2 separate regions of the Homo sapiens genome follow, and region 1 is linked to region 2. The links come from fine-mapping of genetic effects on gene expression. A gene starts in region 2. The other region holds a variant in brackets. All regions are shown on one strand. Distances are from middle to middle. Region 1 overlaps ZMYM4 (zinc finger MYM-type containing 4). Region 2 holds the start of ZMYM4 (zinc finger MYM-type containing 4).

What was found. PIP is the estimated chance that this variant, and not a neighbour inherited with it, causes the effect.
Region 1: its variant is the best candidate, but not a certain one, in a credible set for the expression of ZMYM4 in whole blood (INTERVAL, PIP 0.87).

Annotation. Positions count from the first base shown.
Region 1 is chr1:35,399,080-35,407,423 of GRCh38, forward strand. It overlaps ZMYM4 (zinc finger MYM-type containing 4), which reads left to right. Exons shown (of 30, transcript NM_005095.3): 23 at 403-497; 24 at 5,944-6,115; 25 at 6,294-6,389. Among named protein-coding and RNA genes, the nearest start is that of ZMYM4-AS1, 37 kb to the left of the region's middle. The variant A/ACTTTTTC (reference allele first, on the strand shown) is at 3,753.
Region 2 is chr1:35,264,715-35,273,058 of GRCh38, forward strand. ZMYM4 (zinc finger MYM-type containing 4) reads left to right here and starts at 3,995. Exons shown (of 30, transcript NM_005095.3): 1 at 3,995-4,371. The coding sequence starts at 4,333. RefSeq lists enhancers at 3,685-3,744, 3,765-3,824, 8,094-8,344 and silencers at 3,955-4,314, 4,385-4,514.

The DNA.
Region 1 (8,344 bases), 130 kb after region 2:
ATTTTAAAAGATCGGTACAACTCTGAATTGACACTATTAAGCAGTGCCAATTGTTATTGATAATAACAGTGTAATGTGTTAGAGGTCATAATCTAGAGCACAAATAGACCCTGGCTTTGTAGGTGTTAATTCGTACCATATTGTTCTTATAAGTGGTTAATGTGGTTAAAATTTTTTTTAACCTTTCCCGTAGTAGCTATATAAGAGGTTTTCCTGATTGTTAATGAAGTTTTCATTTATGCACTATATCCTTGGTTTAAGTCTATAAGTGGAATCCTTATTTTATCACAAACAAACTAATGAATATAGTGATGATTACCTGATATTTCTTTACTAGTCTAAGTCTTTATTTAAATTTGTGAGTTATTTACCTCATGTTGTCCTTTCTGCTGATTATTATAGACTCCTTTGACCCACTTAATAAAGGACAGGGAATCCAGGCACGTTCCCGAACAAGACGACGACACAGAGATGGCTTCCCCCAACCCAGACGAAGAGTAAGCTGCAGCTTAACTTTTCTAGACTTTTCTTTCCTTCATTCTACAAGCATTATTTAGTTCCTGCTGCTTTCAAAACTCTGTAACAGCCAGAGTCAGGTAGTTCCACATGTTGTTTTGCAACTTTTGTTTTTTGAATTCAAGAACCATATATTTTATTTACATTTCTTTCAGTAGGAACTTTTTTTGTTTCTATAGTTAAGGGTTTTCTTTTATATTGCTTTGTTTACTTTAAAAAACTTTTTATAGTTATTTTTTATGCTTTATCTGTTTGAACAGCCTCTAAATTTAGCTCTTTTTACATGTTATAATACTGAGTACTTTGGGAGGCCAAGGCAGGCGGATCACAAGGTCAGGAGATCGAGACCATCCTGGCTAACATGGTGAAACCCCGTCTCTACTAAAAATACAACAAAATTAGCCAGGTGTGGTGGTGGGCGCCTGTAGTCCCAGCTACTCGGGAGGCTGAGGCAGGAGAATGGCCTGAACCCAGGAGGTGGAGCTTGCAGTGAGCTGAGATCAGGCCACTACACTCCAGCCTGGGTTACAGAGCAAGACTGTCTCAAAAAAAAAAAAAAAAAAGTAATAATAAATAAAAATAAAAAATACTGAGTAGTTCACTATTTTTTTTTTTTTTTTTTTTGAGACGGAGTTTCGCTCTGTCACCCAGGCTGGAGTGCAGTGGCGTGATCTCGGCTCACTGCAAGCTCCACCTCCTGGGTTCAGGCCATTCTCCTGCCTCAGCCTCCCAAGTAGCTGGGACTACAGGTGCCCGCCACCACGCCTGGCTAATTTTTATTGGTATTTTTTAGTAGAGACAGGGTTTCACCATGTTAGCCAGGATGGTCTCGATCTCCTGACCTCGTGATCCACCCGCCTTGGCCTCCCAAAGTGCTGGGATTACAGGCGTGAGCCACCGCGCCCGGCCAGTTCCCTATTTTTATAGTATAGTAAAATAGTGAAGTTCACATGGCTGTTTTTCACATTGACAGGGCTTTCCTATACAAAGTTGAAAGAATAATAGCTTTATTTTTAAAATTAGCCCTATTGTATAATTATATTAAAACATTTTTAAGTTCTGAGTGTACATTTTGATGGCCTTCAACTAATGTATATGTTATGTAATTCCCACCACAATCATGAACAATTCCACTTAGCAAGAAGTTCCACTATGACCTTTTGCAGTCAGCCCCTCTGGCTGCTGACAACCACTGATCTACTGTACCGATTGATGCAGAATGCCACTGCTTTGCCTTTTCTGAAATTTCACATGAATGGAATCCTATAATATGTAGTCTTCTGTGTTTAAGTTCTTTTACTTGGCATAATGTTTTTGAGATTCATCCATGTTATTTCATGTCCCAGTAGTTGATTCCTTTTTATTTCTGAGTAGTATTTCATTACATGGACAAACTACAATTTGTTCAGCTGTTTAACAGGTGATAAAAATTTGGGTTGTTTCCAGATTGGGGCTATTTTGAATAAAACTTACTCAAAATGTTATGAACATCTTAGTATCAATCTTTGTGTGAACATATGTTTTCATTTCTCTTGAGGAAAAAGATCTAGGAATGAGATTGCTAGGTTTTATGCTTATGTGTATTTTTAACTTTGTAAGAAAGCTGCCAGACTGTTTTCCAAAGGAGATGTACCATTTTGCAGTCCCACCAGCAATGTATGAGAGAGTTCCATCTGCTCCATGACTTTGCTAACACTTGGTATTGTTGATTTTTAATTTTAGCCATTCTAGTCAATGTATAGTGGTACCTCATTATGGTTTTAATTTGTTTTTCCCTAATGATTAATGATGTTAAGCATCTTTTCATATATGTATTTGCCATTCATGTGTCTTCTTTGGTAAAGTGTTTATTCACAGTTTTCGCACATTTTTTTCATTTTTTTGTTGGGTTGGTTGTTATCTTGCTGAGTTGTAAGTATTCTTTACTGTGGACATAATTTCTTTATCAAATCAACGTTTGGTCCTATTTTGTTACTTCCTTTTTATTTTCTTAATGATGAGTAGCAGATTTTGATTTTGAGGAAGTCCCTTTTATCAATTTGTTATTTTATGGATTGTGCTTTTTAATACCTCATCTAAAAATTTTTGCCTAACTCATAGTAACTAAGACATTCTCTTACATTTTCTTCTAGAAGTTTTATAGTTTTAACTTTTATGTTTGTGATCTATTTTGAGGTAATTTTTATATATGAGTTGAGACAAGGGTCAAGGTTCATTTTTTGAATATGGACATCCAGTTGTTCCAGCACTGCCCTTGAAAAAGACTATTCATTCCCCATTGAATTACATTGGCAACTCTGTTAAAAGTCAATCATATATGTATCTATCAGTCTGTTTCTGAAACTTTCTATTCTGTTCTATTGACTTATATGTCTATTTTTATACCAGTACCAACTGTCCTGATTACTGTGATTTTACAGTGAGCCTGGAAATTAAGAGTGTAAATCTTCCAGCTTTGTTCTTCTTAAACTTGTCATTTGCATGTCTATATACATTTTGGAATCAACTTGTCAATTTCTTTAAAAAAAAAAAAAAAAAAAAGGCTGCTAGAATTTCAGTTGGGGCTGTCCTGAATCCAGAGGGAGAGAATTGACATTTTAGGAATGTTGAGTCTTCTAATTTGGAAACATGGAATAGTCTGCATTACAAGTCTCATTATATTCTGTTAAGTTTATTTCATAAGTATTTAAGATATTTTGATGCTGTTGTAAATTGTATTATTTTTAAATTTCATTTTTCACTGAGCACAATGACTCACACCTATAATCCTAGTACTTTGGGAGGCTAAGGCAGAAGGATTGTTTGAGCCCAGGAGTTTGAGACCAGCCTGGGCAATGTAGTGAGACCCCATCTCTACTAAAAATTTTAAAAATTAGCTGGGCATGGTGACGCATGCTGGTGGTCCCAGCTACTTGGAGGGCTGAGCTGGGAGAATTGCTTGAGCCTAGGGGGGGTCGAGGCTGCAGTAAGCCCTGATCATGCCACTGCACTCTAGTCTGGGCGACAGAGCGAGACCCTGTCTCAAAAAAAAAGAAAAACAATTTCATTTTTCGTGTTCCTTACTAGTATATAGAAATATAGATAATTTTTTCTTCTATGATATTTATCTTAGAAATAAAAAAAAGAAATATAGGTAATTTTCATGTATTTACTTTGTGTCCTGTGACTTTGCTCAACTAAAATCCTTAGGATTTTCTACCTAGACAATCATATTATCTGTGAATAAAGACAGTTTT[A/ACTTTTTC]CTTTGTAATCTGAATGCATTTTCTTTCCTTCTTTTTCTTGTTTTATTGAACTAGCTAGTATCTTCAGTACAATGTTGAATATTAGTAGTGAGAGCAGACCTTTTTGCCTTATTCCTAACCTTACGGTGAAAAAAGTCTTGCAACAGAAAGTATGATGTTACCTGTAGGTTTCTCATAGGTGGTTTCTATCAGGTTGAAGAAGTTCCCCTTCTCCTTTTAATTTGCTGAAAGTTTTTTAAATCATGATTGGGTATTGAACTTCCTCAGGTGGATTTCTTGCATCTTTTGAGGTGATTATCTGGTTTTCCTTTTTTTAAGTCTGTTAAAATGGTGAAATACATTAATTTTTTCAAATGATTAACCTTCCATTCCTGGGATAAACCCTACTTTTTTCTGTATTTATTATTTTTTTGTGTTGCTGGATTTGGTTTGCTAATATTCTGCGAAGGTTTTTTGTTGTTGTTCTGTTTTGAGACAGAGTCTCACTCTGTTGCCCAGGCTCGAGTGCAATGGCGCGATCTCGGCTCACTGTAACCTCCACCTTCCAGGTTCAAGCAGTTCTCCTGCCTCAGCCTTCCAAGTAGCTGGGATTACAGGTGCCCACCACCATGCCTGGGTAATTTTTGTATTTTTAGTAGAGATGGGGTGTCACCATGTTGGCCAGGCTGGTCTTGAACTCCTGGCCTCAAGTGATCCACCCACCTCGCCCTCCCAAAGTGCTGGGATTACAGGTGTGAGCTGCCATGGCTGGCCCTATGAAGGTTTTGAGTGTCCCTGTTCAAGACATATTTATCTGTACTTTGTGACTGGTTTTGGTATCAGGGTAATGGTGACATTATAAAATTAGTTAATATTTCTTTTTCTTCTATTTGTATAATTTCTTTAACTATGATAGAATTTGTATAATTTCTTTAACTATGATAGAATTTGTATAATTTCTTTAACTATGATAGAATTTAACTATGATGGAATTTAATCCATCTGGGAATAGAGTTTTTGTGGGAGGGTTTTAAGCTATAAATGCTGTTTCTATGGCTATTTAGGTTATCTGTTTCTTCTAGAGTAAGCTTAATTAATCTTTCAAGAAGTTTGTCCATTTCATCTAAGTTGTTTAATTTATTGGCATGAGAGTCACAAGTGATCCACCTGCCTCAGCCTCCCAAAGTGTTGGGATTACAGGCATGAGCCACTGCACCCAGCCTGGGTTTTAATTTGGATTTCCTTTTCTGGTTTTTTGCTTGTTTGTTTTTAGACAGGGTCTCCACTCAGTCACCCAGGCTGGAGTGCAGTGGCGTAATCATGGCTCGCTGCAACCTCAACCTCCTGGGCTCAGGTGATCCTTAAACCTCAGTCTCCCAAGTAGCTGGGACTACAGATGTATGCCACCATGCCTGGCTAATTTTTTAATTTTTTGTAGAGACGGGGTCTTGCCATGTTGCCCAGGCTTATTTCGAACTCCTGGGCTCAGTCTGCCCACTTAGGCCTCCCAGAGTGCTGGCATTACAGGTATGGGCCATTGCACTTGGCCTTCCTTTTCTAGTTTCTTAATATAGAAGCTTAGGTTATAGATTATAGACTTTTTAAAAATTTTCTTATTGAAACATTTTAATACTACAAATGTCCCTTTAAGTACTGCTTTAGTTCCATCACAGAAATTTTGGTAAATTTTATTTTCATTTTCCTTTAAGTTCAAAATGTTTTGTGATTGCATGTGTCCTTTCTTCTTTGACCCATAGAGCTGTTTAATTTATGATTTTGGAGGATTTTTTTGGACATCTATGCATCATTGGTTTCTATTTTAATTTCATTGTAGTTAGATAATTTGTTGAGGCTTGTTTTATAGCACAGAATATGATCTGTTTACATGTTTCATTAAATAGACCTGAGTGGTAATAGTAGTTATTCATACCTCATCAGGTGAGTCTATATCTGGAACATAGTAAATACCCAAATGTTAGTGATTATTACAGTGTGCTCTTCTGCATTTAAACTTTTTCTTTCTTCCTTCCTCATATGGATTGGATTAAATAATCTCTAAAGCCCTTTCTTGCTCTAAGAACTCTGAATCTTTAGGATATAAAACTAAATTCTTTATTCTACAAATGTATACCCTTTCCAGCTTTGAGAACCCTGACTCTTAAAAATCCAAAACTAAATTTTATGTTCTGTAAATTTTTGGAATTCTTACAGGGACGGAAGAAGTCTATAGTGGCTGTGGAGCCCAGGAGTCTTATTCAAGGAGCCTTTCAAGGCTGCTCAGTGTCCGGGATGACACTGAAATACATGTATGGGGTAAATGCTTGGAAGAACTGGGTTCAGTGGAAAAATGCCAAGGAAGAGCAGGGGGATCTAAAATGTGGAGGTAAGTGCACAGCATGAATTGTATCTTGATTTAGGTAGGGGGAAATATACAGATAATCTACTGAAAAGGGATACATTTTAGGTCAAAAACCCCATAAAACTTTGGTTTGGGCTTTACTTAATTTTTTCCGCACTTTTATTTTATTTAAACTTTTCTTTTATGTTTCTCTCCTTGTCAGGGGTTGAACAGGCCTCATCTAGCCCACGTTCTGACCCCTTAGGAAGTACTCAAGACCATGCACTCTCTCAAGAATCCTCAGAGCCAGGCTGTAGAGGTAAAATTTGTTTCTCTCCATTTGGTATGAATTATTTATATTATTATTGCGGATTTAAATTTGTAAATTGAATATTTAAAATTATTTAAAATTTAGAGTATTAAGGTTAGAAAGAGAAATTAATCTTATCCCGTTTTAAGGAGGTTGTTATAAGGGTAAGGTTATGTCTTCTGCTCTTGAGTTTATTATGCAAATATACAGAATTTTGTTTTATTTTTGACACTGTGCAAGTGCCTCAAAATATGTCTTCTTGAGCCCTGCGTCTGTATAGTAATCCATGTGGAGCCCAGTTTTTTTTTTGTTTTTTTTTTTAAGAAAAATACCTGGAAAAGCCTTGCTTCTAATGTAGGAATTTTTCCTTACAGTGAGATCTATGTAACTGACAATGTTTGTGGGTTTCACTTCAGCTGCCAGGAAATTTGGTATTACATGAGCATTTCAAATAAAGCAACAGTGTATAATTTTAAGGCCCACATTAGTTTTCATTTTTCACTACTTTTGACACCCTATTCTAAATTTTTGTTTCACTTTATCTTTTGCTTTTAATTTGTGTTTTATGTAAAATACTTATACAATCTTTATGGAATGAGATGGGGCAGAATGGAGGAGTATATCCATGTAACTTGATTTTATTCCACTTTCCAACTATATCTTCTTTCTGTCTTAAACCTAGGTGATTGTATGCACTCTTGGCTTCACTCCAGTCTACCCTGTTGGTTTTGGGGCACATGTAACTGTCCTTATTGGAGCACTTAGTTGCTGCTGTGGGCAGTGACTAACTCATTGAGTTCCTATAGATGAAATGTAATCTGTCTGCTCCAAAGCTATGTAAATACACTCCTGTTGTGGAGATTTACTAGGCCATTAACTGCCTAGTAGCATGTTTTAAGTTAAAAGAGCAACCTGCTGGGTGCAGTGGCTCATACTTGTAATCCCAGCACTGTAGAAGGCTGAATCAGGAGGATCTCCTAAGCCCAAGAGTTCTGAGGCTGCAGTGAGCTATGATTGCACCACTGCACTCCAGCCTGAGCATCAGAGTGAGACCCTGTCTCTAAAAAAATAAAAATAAAACAAAAAGCCGGGGAAGGGTAATAGTGCAAATGGAGAGGTAATACTGCTTTAGACTACTAAGCCTAAATGCAGCTGTTACAGGGATGGCAACCCATTTCTACCACTCTTTCATTGAGAAATACTTACTGAATATCTCTCTTATATACCAGGTATGAAGCTAGGTACTAGGGTGAAAAAGTCAAACATGGTCGGTGCTCTCATGAGATACGGCTTGCTTTAACTAAAACCCAACTCACAGGAGCCCATGTGTATGTAATCTTATCTCAGTGCAGAAGAGCAATGACTAGAAAGGGTGTTTTAATCTTGGCCCCACAATGTGGATCAACATGTTGTAGTAGGACCTCTACAAATCAAATTGGATAACTCCCCTGCTCAAAATTAATTCAGCTCATTGTCTGCAAAATCTTAATATGAGAAATGAGGCTGATCATGATCTGCTCCCACCTGCCCTTCTTGCCTTGTCCTATACACCCAAGTCCCCTGAACCTTTGCAGCCTGTGACCTAGCAAAGGGAATACTGTATTCTAGCATTTCCAAAGGCAAGAGGGTGTTATTCATTATTTGAGGTGTTCTGTATTCAAATAAATATCAGCTGAAGAAAGTTAAACAGCTGGTCGGGTGTAGTGGCTTATACTTGTAATCCCAGCACTTTGGGAGGCCGAGGCGGGCGGATCACCAGAGGTTGGGAGTTTGAGACCAGCCTGACCAACATGGAGAAACCCCGTCTCTACTAAAAATACAAAATTATCTGGGCATGGTGGTGCACGGCTGACTCCCAGCTACTCAGGAGGCTGAGATAGGAGAATCACTTGAACCCGGCGGAGGTTGCAGTGAGCCGAGATTGTGCCATTGCACCCCAGCCTGGGCAATAAAAGCGAAATTCC
Region 2 (8,344 bases):
ATTTTTTATCCCACTTGTTTTACTTTCTTCCTAACATTTTCTGAATGGATCTACCTAAATGTCCAATGTAGTTTAAAACATATTTGAATCTAATGGTTAGAATTCTGTTAGTTAATAATTTCTTTTGGAAAGAAACACTGTATCTTTCCTGTGGCTGCCCTCTCCCTCTGAGTGAGTATCTAAAATAACGTCTGCATTTATGAGGCATTATGACTTTGGGGAAGCCTGAGACCTTGAATCTATTCGGAGTCCCTGACCTCTCAGGATGCTCTACAGCCTGTTGTTAAGAGAGTGGAATGTTTTGTAGCCTGGCCTCGCTAAGTTTGCTCAGAGCCTGAAGGCAAACCACACAGCTCTTCCTGAGGTCTGGCTGTTACTACTTTTTGTTCCTGGCCCAGTGTAATTTACAGAGCTACTTCCTCCTATACTTGCCAGCCAGCATTCTTGGCTACTTTCCGTATTCTTCTACAGGGTATGTGGGAACTTCTGGATATCTTCTCTCGCAGGAGCTAAGGACCACTCACTTGCAGAGCTCCGCCCAAAACCCTGTACCTAATTTTGTGTATGTAATTCTGTGTTCTTTTTCTTAAAAACAAAACAAAACAAACAAACAAAAAAACCCTCCCTCTCCCCCCATCATGTAAGCTTCAAGATCTGTAAAACCTGGATTCATCTCTGGCTGAGAGACACTCTGAGGAGCTAAATGCAGACCTGCTCTTTTTTCCCAACTACATCAGGGCATGACTTTTGCTCATATGTGGCTGTCTGCTTGTTGGTATGGGCATAGTCTGCAAGTCATCTCTACTTGGAATCTTAAACAGGAGCAGAGTAAGAATCCTCTCTGCCTTGAAGAGCTGGAATGGGAAGACAGGAGCACATGTCTCTCAATGATGCCTCTCTTACTTTTCTCTTTGTTCTTCTTCTCTCTACCCTTTTATTAAAAGAGTCAGACTTTTCTTTTATTTCCCTATATGCAGCCTCATGGCTTAGCTGTCCTGGATGGAAGGATATTTGGGTGGAAGGCATTTCCTGTGGAGTATGTAAAAACTCTATGAAATTATTATGTGCTGAGCTTCATAGATTAAATGGAACTAAGAAAATTTAGCAAATTCTTTTTCTCTCCATTCTGTTCTCTCCTGATTGGGAAAATAAGTCTCAAGGCTACATTTCAAGCAAGAGTCTATGACAGAAGATGACTTAAGAAAGTTAAAAGAAATCTGTTTGATATTTGCAAGATACTAGCCCCATTATAGTCTAGTTTTTTTTTTTTTTTTTTTTTGAAACAAGTCAGAGCACTGAACTTGTAGGTGAAATATCCCATTTAAAATGTTGATATATGATTTAACTTTTTTTTTTTAAAAAAAAGATAATGGCCGGGCGCGGTGGCTCACGCCTGTAATCCCAGCACTTTGGGAGGCCGAGGCAGGCGGATCACAAGGTCAGGGGATCAAGACCCTCCTGGCTAACACAGTGAAACCCAGTCTGTACTAAAAATACAAAAAGTTAGCCGGGCATGGTGGCGGGTGCCTGTAGTTCCAGCTACTCGGGAGGCTGAGGCAGAAGAATGGTGTGAACCCGGGAGGCGGAGCTTGCAGTGAGCCCAGATCGCGCCACTGCACTCTAGCTCGATGACAGAGTGAGACTCTGTCTCAAAAAATAATAATAATAATAATAATGATACTCATATGGTATTAGGAACCAACAGTGTTCTAGGAGATTTAGAGATGTTAACTAATTTAATCCTCTTGGTGTCCCATTTTACAGATAAGGAAAGTGAGGCACAGGACAATTACCTTGACCAAGATCATATAGCTATACACAATACAAATCAAATGCATTTCTGTGGGACAGATTTGGTCACAAGGCCACCAATTTACAATGTCTACTTTACGATATTTCAAATAAGTCAGAAAGAACAAGGCTTTGAATTCTGACTTGGCCTCTGTGCTGAATGATCTTGGACTAGTCACTTAAGCTCTGTGAATCCTTCTATAAAATTATGATTAACTTTTCAGTGCTCACTAAATGGTTTTCTCTTGTCTTATTCCTCCATATGGATGACTGCCCTGAACATTCATGTTATGCTTGTATATTATCTGAAATGCACAAATCCCACCTATTATTCGAGACCTAACACATTGCTAATACCTCCAGAAACAGTCTGTGTAGGACAGAGCCCTGAGGATCAAGATGTCTGTTTCAGTCTTGATACTGTTACTAATCCTGTGTGTGATCTCAAGCAAATCATATCTTCTCTAAGCCTCAGAGGCTTCATCTTGAAAATGTGGAGTTAGACTAAACTAATAAGTTTAAACTGTGATCTGAGAAACTCAACATTTCTGTAATGATGGGAGGGGGCATGAAAGGAGAGAGAGTGCAAGGGTGAAGCTGGGTGAATAGACTAGTGGGTTCCCCACTTACACTCCCAACTTAGCAGCTCCACATTTTAAACCACCAGATTTTATTAGAAGGGAGTATTCCACTGCCAATAAAACAGGTGGAAACCACTACAAGTTTTATGTAGCCACATTCCCTGGAATTATCTTTTCTTGGCTCCTCTTTTCTTTCTTGTCCTGGACATGGAACTAAAGGGAACATGTTTTTAAAATTCTGGCTGAAATGAACATATTTCTTTGTCCTTCTTTCTTCTCTCCTACCGAGGAGTGAAATTAAAGACAGTGCTAAAGGCATAAGCAAGGCCAGTATGGAAACTTCCAGCAATTTCACCAAAAGTTTTCAGCAAAATATTACAGATTAGAAAACATCTGTTTCAGAATAGCTACCAAGTGCTAAATAAAACAGAAAACAGAAGTTACATCTCATTATCCTGTGACTTCAGGAGTTATCATTCCCACTTGAATATGTCTTGTCATGGGAAATGACCTTCAGGAGGCATCTTCTTTGTATTTCTTACTATATGTCTCCCCACTGTCCCTGAACTATCATTATAAACTTAATTTTTTCTGCACCCAAAGCTTGTGGGAACTAGAATGAACAGAAGAGGAATGAATGAAGCCCTCATTCTTTTCAGCGATTTTCAGCTTAGGACCCAGTTTTGGAACAAGATAGACCCAAATCTACTTCCTGGTTTCCTGCTTAGAAATAAGATGCTTATCCTTTAAGGCAGATTGTCAAGCTCCTTCAATAGAGGTGAATGAGGACACCCATCATCTGCAAATCATTACATCTTCACAAGAGAATTATGATATTCTCCAAATACCATGAAACTTCAATTTTTAATCTTCTAGGGATATCAAATTAAACCAAATTTATCTCTCGCCTGAAGACAGCCTGGAGGACTGAGACTGTAATCTTGATTCCAACTCCACACCAGCCATTAGTTACATTGGGACAAATTCCTTCCCATGATCAGGCTGCAATTTTATCATTGGGAGCACTGGAGTAAATGGTTCCCTAAGATCCTTCTCCATTTTGATGTTCTAAGGATAAATTACTATTGAAGAAATTATTTCCAGTTGTTGGTTCAATCTTCAAAATCACCAAAAGCTTTGATTTTAAGGTGAGGTTATAGGAGTTGGCTCTTGATATTCTATGCCTTGTGCTTCAGAACAGGCAGTCGAAAGGGAGGAAAGTTGGTTTTCCTTGAGATGACTGTCTTGTTCCCTCATTGGTTTGGGATTCTTCATGTTCAGAGGTCCACTGAGAACTTCAGCTTACCATGACTTTCCCTCTTCAATGGTACCACTGTAGTCAGGTGTAAGATGGTGATGTGGAACCCTTCACTGACATTGCACCCAATTCTCCAGATTGTCTTTCCAGTAATTTCTTTCATTTCTCCTTCATCCCTGCGTCATGGTCCCTTTAAGGGAGCGGCCATAGTTGAGTGGTGGGAGCAGCTGCTGGCAGCAAAGAGACTTGCAGGATTTGGCCTACCCATGGCCACTTACCGCGCACGCTCAGGACCGGGGGCTTGGTGGGAAAGGAAGGAGGGACTTAGGGTGCGCCTGCGCATCAGGGGCGCGCGCAAGGGGCTGATTTGGTGATCCCTTTAAGAAACCGCAGGCGGAGGAATTTCTCTGAGAGAAAATAATCCTACTCACGGGGCCCCTTGGAGGCCATTAACCCCCCGAGTCCCGGCCCCCACCCCGTCCCCGGGCAGGCCCTCCCGCCCACGCGCGGACCCGTGGGATCTCAGAAGCTGCGGCCCGGCGCGCGGCATCCGCCCCCTCCCCACTCTCGGCGCAAGGCCCGGCCGGGTCCGGGGAAGCTGCCGCGAGGCGGCCGTGCCTGCAGTGTGGGCGGGGGCCGGGGGGCCGAGAGGTACCGCCGCCACCGCGCGGGGAGCCGCAGCGGTTCCGAGCGGGGCCCAACATGGCGGAGAGAGAGGTGGAGTCCGGCCCCCGAAAGAGGGTAGGTGAGGTGAGGCAGAACTCGGGCGGCGGGGGGCGGGGCGCGGCCCGGGGCCGGGAATGGGCCATACTCAGGTTCGTGGAGGGGTCGCCGAGGCCCAGTTAGGACAAGGTTGCGGGCAGGTCTGAGGCAGCCTTGGGTCCGGAGCGCGCTGGCGAGCGGTCCCTCGGCAGGTGGGACAAAGATTTGGTGCTGGGTGGGGGGGAGGGGAGGGGGCCGTTGTTTGCCTTCCTCCCCCCGACGTTCCCCAGCACTGGGGTGGGATATCTAGGCCCAGGGAGGGGAGGTGTCAGATTCTTAAGTGCATCTTTAGTGCATCTTTAGTACATCAGAGTCTGGAAGTTAACTGGGGAGAGGTCAGGTGGGGGTGGTGGTGGCGGGAATAAGTCGTGGAGGGGTCTCAGGAGAAATAACCGGAGGGTTCTTCAGTAACACCATCGCGAATTCATTTTCCTGCCTCCTTTCCCCTCCCCCCATAGCCGTTATCTAGACCAAAGTCGGGGTGGTGGTCTTACCTGTGAAGAAGTGGGATCGTTGGCATGTCCTGATTTAGGAGAAAGATTTTGGCTACTATGAATGTCATGTTCTAGCCTAGCCTCTTACTCGCAATTAGGGACTTGGAAGAATACGACAAGTTTTCTCATAACAGGGATGTACCCAATCAACCTGCAGAGGTGAAGCCAATTCTACATAGGAGTTGTTTGAATACCTTTTAAAGTTTGTCTGGAAACTTTCCTTATTTAATTCTGAGTGGTTTTTTTCAGATGGCGAACAATACTGTACTATCGATTGAGCAATATCCCTCACTTTTCTTTTACTTCCTCCCCGCTTAGCATGATAAGAAGTAAGTTTCCTTTTAGGAGTCTTCCTTTTGGGAATGGTTTCAGAAACGATCAATTAGCAAAAGGGCAAAAAATTACTACTTTATGAAGAATGCCCTTTCAGCTTAGCGTAAAATTAGTAATCTCGTAATGATGCTACAGCTGATGTTTTGAGTGCTTACTGTGTGCCTGGCACTGAGCTAAGACCTTTATGTGAAGAATTTAACTTCATAGTAACTCCTCCTAGAACCTATTTGCAGATGAGGAAATTTAGGTGTTGAGGGCTTAAGTAATTTACTTAGATCACACAGCTAGTTGCAAGGTTGAGGTAGGATTTGAATCCAGGTTTGTCCCAACTATAGTGCCTGTGTGGGATGCCACAGAGGAGTTTCTTTAATCTGTGTTTCTCTCCTTAAAAGCTTAAATTGTAAATGACCAAAGAAGTGTCAAGTATTATTTTTTCCAACAATTTATTAGGAAAATATTTTGAACTATCCGTCAATATTATAAAACTTACGGGGAGCAGTCATACACCCAACCGCCTAGATCCTACTGTTAACATTGCATTCCGGACATGCACAGCGGCTCACGCCTGTAATCCCAGCACTTTGGGAGGCCGAGGCGGCAGGATCACTTGAGGCCAGGAGTTCGAGACCAGCCTGGCCAACATGGTGAAACCCCGTCTCTACTAAAAATACAAAAAATTAACCCGGCGTGGTGGCGGGTGCCTGTAATCCCAGCTATTCGGGAGGCTGAGGCAGGGGAATCGCTTGAACCTGGGAGGCGGTGGTAGCAGGGAGGCGGTGGTAGCAGTGAGCCGAGATCGTGCTACTGCACTCTAGCCTAGGTGACAGAGGGAGGCACTGTCTCAAAACCCCCTCCAAAAAAAAAATTGCATTCCACTTGTTTTATCATATATTTACCCCTCTATCCCTCTTTCTGTTCATCAGTCGTGTTATTTTAATGCATTTCATCGTAGTGTTTTGAACAATAAATTTTTACCATTGATAAGTTTACGAAATGTTGGATTCACCTAATGCAATAATTAGTCATAGAGCAAGTTAAGCTGTATGATGGTATGTCCAAATAGTTTTGTAAGTATAAATGTTGTGTATGGAATGCATGTGTTTTGAAATTTTAAAATTTTCAAGTTGTGTTCAGTTTTGAACTAGATCCTTACTGTGCTTGGATGAAGGCATATGGCATATAGTCCACCAATGAAAATATACAGGGTAAATTACTTAAGATATGTAATGTTAATTCAGGGAGATTTCTGCATCCAGTTGCTGTGAATGTTGTCATTCACCTTCTGTACTAGGATGTTCTAGGATATTCTAGAAAACATTGATGTGTGTTGACAACAAATTCAACTAGATTTTAAATATATTCTGCCTCTTGTCGTACACTTAAAAGATGTTACTGGTCTTGTGAATCTTCTGCTAAAGGAATGCTGGAAAAAAAAAAAAAGATACCATACTGGTAGCAGTAAAAACTTTATTATTATTATTATTTTTGAGACAGAGTCTTGCTCTGTTGCCCAGGCTAGAGTGCGGTGGCGCAATCTCGGCTCGTTGCAACCTCCGCCTCCCGGGTTCAATTAATTCTCCTGCTTCAGCCTCCCAAGTAGCTGGGATTACAGGCAAGCACCACCATGCCTGGCTAATTTTTGTATTTTTAGTAAAGATGGGATTTTGCCATGTTGGCCAGGCTGATCTCGAACTCCTGACCTCTGGTGATCAGCACACCTCGGCTTCCCAAAGTGCTGGGATTACAGGTGTGAGCTACCGGGCCTGGCCCAAAAGTTAATTTTATTTTTAACAACCTATAACATACGCAGGACTTGTATAGGTTTCCCCCATTATTTTGCCAGTTTCATCACAGAGGAAAATTACATTCATTGATTTTTGGAATTAATGGTGTGGTGGCACATGCTTCTAGTCCTCGCTATTCAGAGGTTGAGGTGGGAGCATTGCTTGAGCCCAGGAGTTGGAGGTTGCAGTGAGCTATGATATTGCCACTGCTCTCCAGCCTGGGTGACAGAGGGAAACCCCCTCTCTAGAAAAAGTAAAAATAATACATAAATAATATTTTTTGATCCATAATTCATTTTGTTTTTGATATTTCATTAGAATGTTCGGTATGATTGTCTTAAATGATATAAGTACTTTTTTCCACTTTTTTTTGGTGTGTGCCAAATTACATGTGGATTCCATATGTATACTCCAAGCCGATTAATGGGGACTATGCAGTACCATGTCTTTGGAAATTGACTGCCTTGAGGGAGTTGAAACAAACTATCCACATAGACTTAGATAGTAACTTTAGGCTATTCAATCTGAAATTGCATTGATGACATGGTATTGTACTTAATGATGCTTACTGCTTTTGACCTTTGTAATCATGTCACAAAAAAGTTGCTAAGCACCTGTGCTATTTCATAAGCTACATGCTAGGCATTGTGCTTTGTTACTTAGGGTCATTTAGGATAATATATGCTGGCTCTCTTGATAAATTGTGAACTCCTTTAACATAGTATCTATTTCATTGCTTTTTGCGTCTGGACATCTTGTGACCTCTACACAGTAGGAACTCAAAAGACTTGCTGACTTATTTTTGTAAGAATAGCTTACCTAGTACAGCAGAGGCTCTATGGGTTGAGTACCAAGTTCTCTGCTTTGTAATTTTGAGGGGCTCTGTAAATCTTTCATAGCGTCCTTTACTCCCCAGAGTTCTCTCCTATGGATCCAGATTTAGGGATCTTCTGATTGTTCTGGATTATGGTTAGATGGGCAGGTGACTGCATTTTTTGTTGTTGTTTTTGAGATGGAGTCTTGCTCTGTCGCCCATGCTGGAGTGCAGTGGCGCTATCTCAGCTCACTGCAAGCTCCGCCTCCCGGGTTCACGCCATTCCTTCGCCTCAGCCTCCCGAGTAGCTGGGACTACAGGCTCCCACCACCATGCCCGGCTAATTTTTTGTTTCTGTATTTTTAGTAGAGACGGGGTTTCACCATGTTAGCCAGGATGGTCTCGATCTCCTGACCTCGTGATCCACCCGCCTCGGCCTCCCAAAGTGCTAGGATTACAGGCGTGAGCCACCACGCCCAGCCGGTGACTGCATTTTAAGACCATTGGGTTAACAACCTTAAATTCTA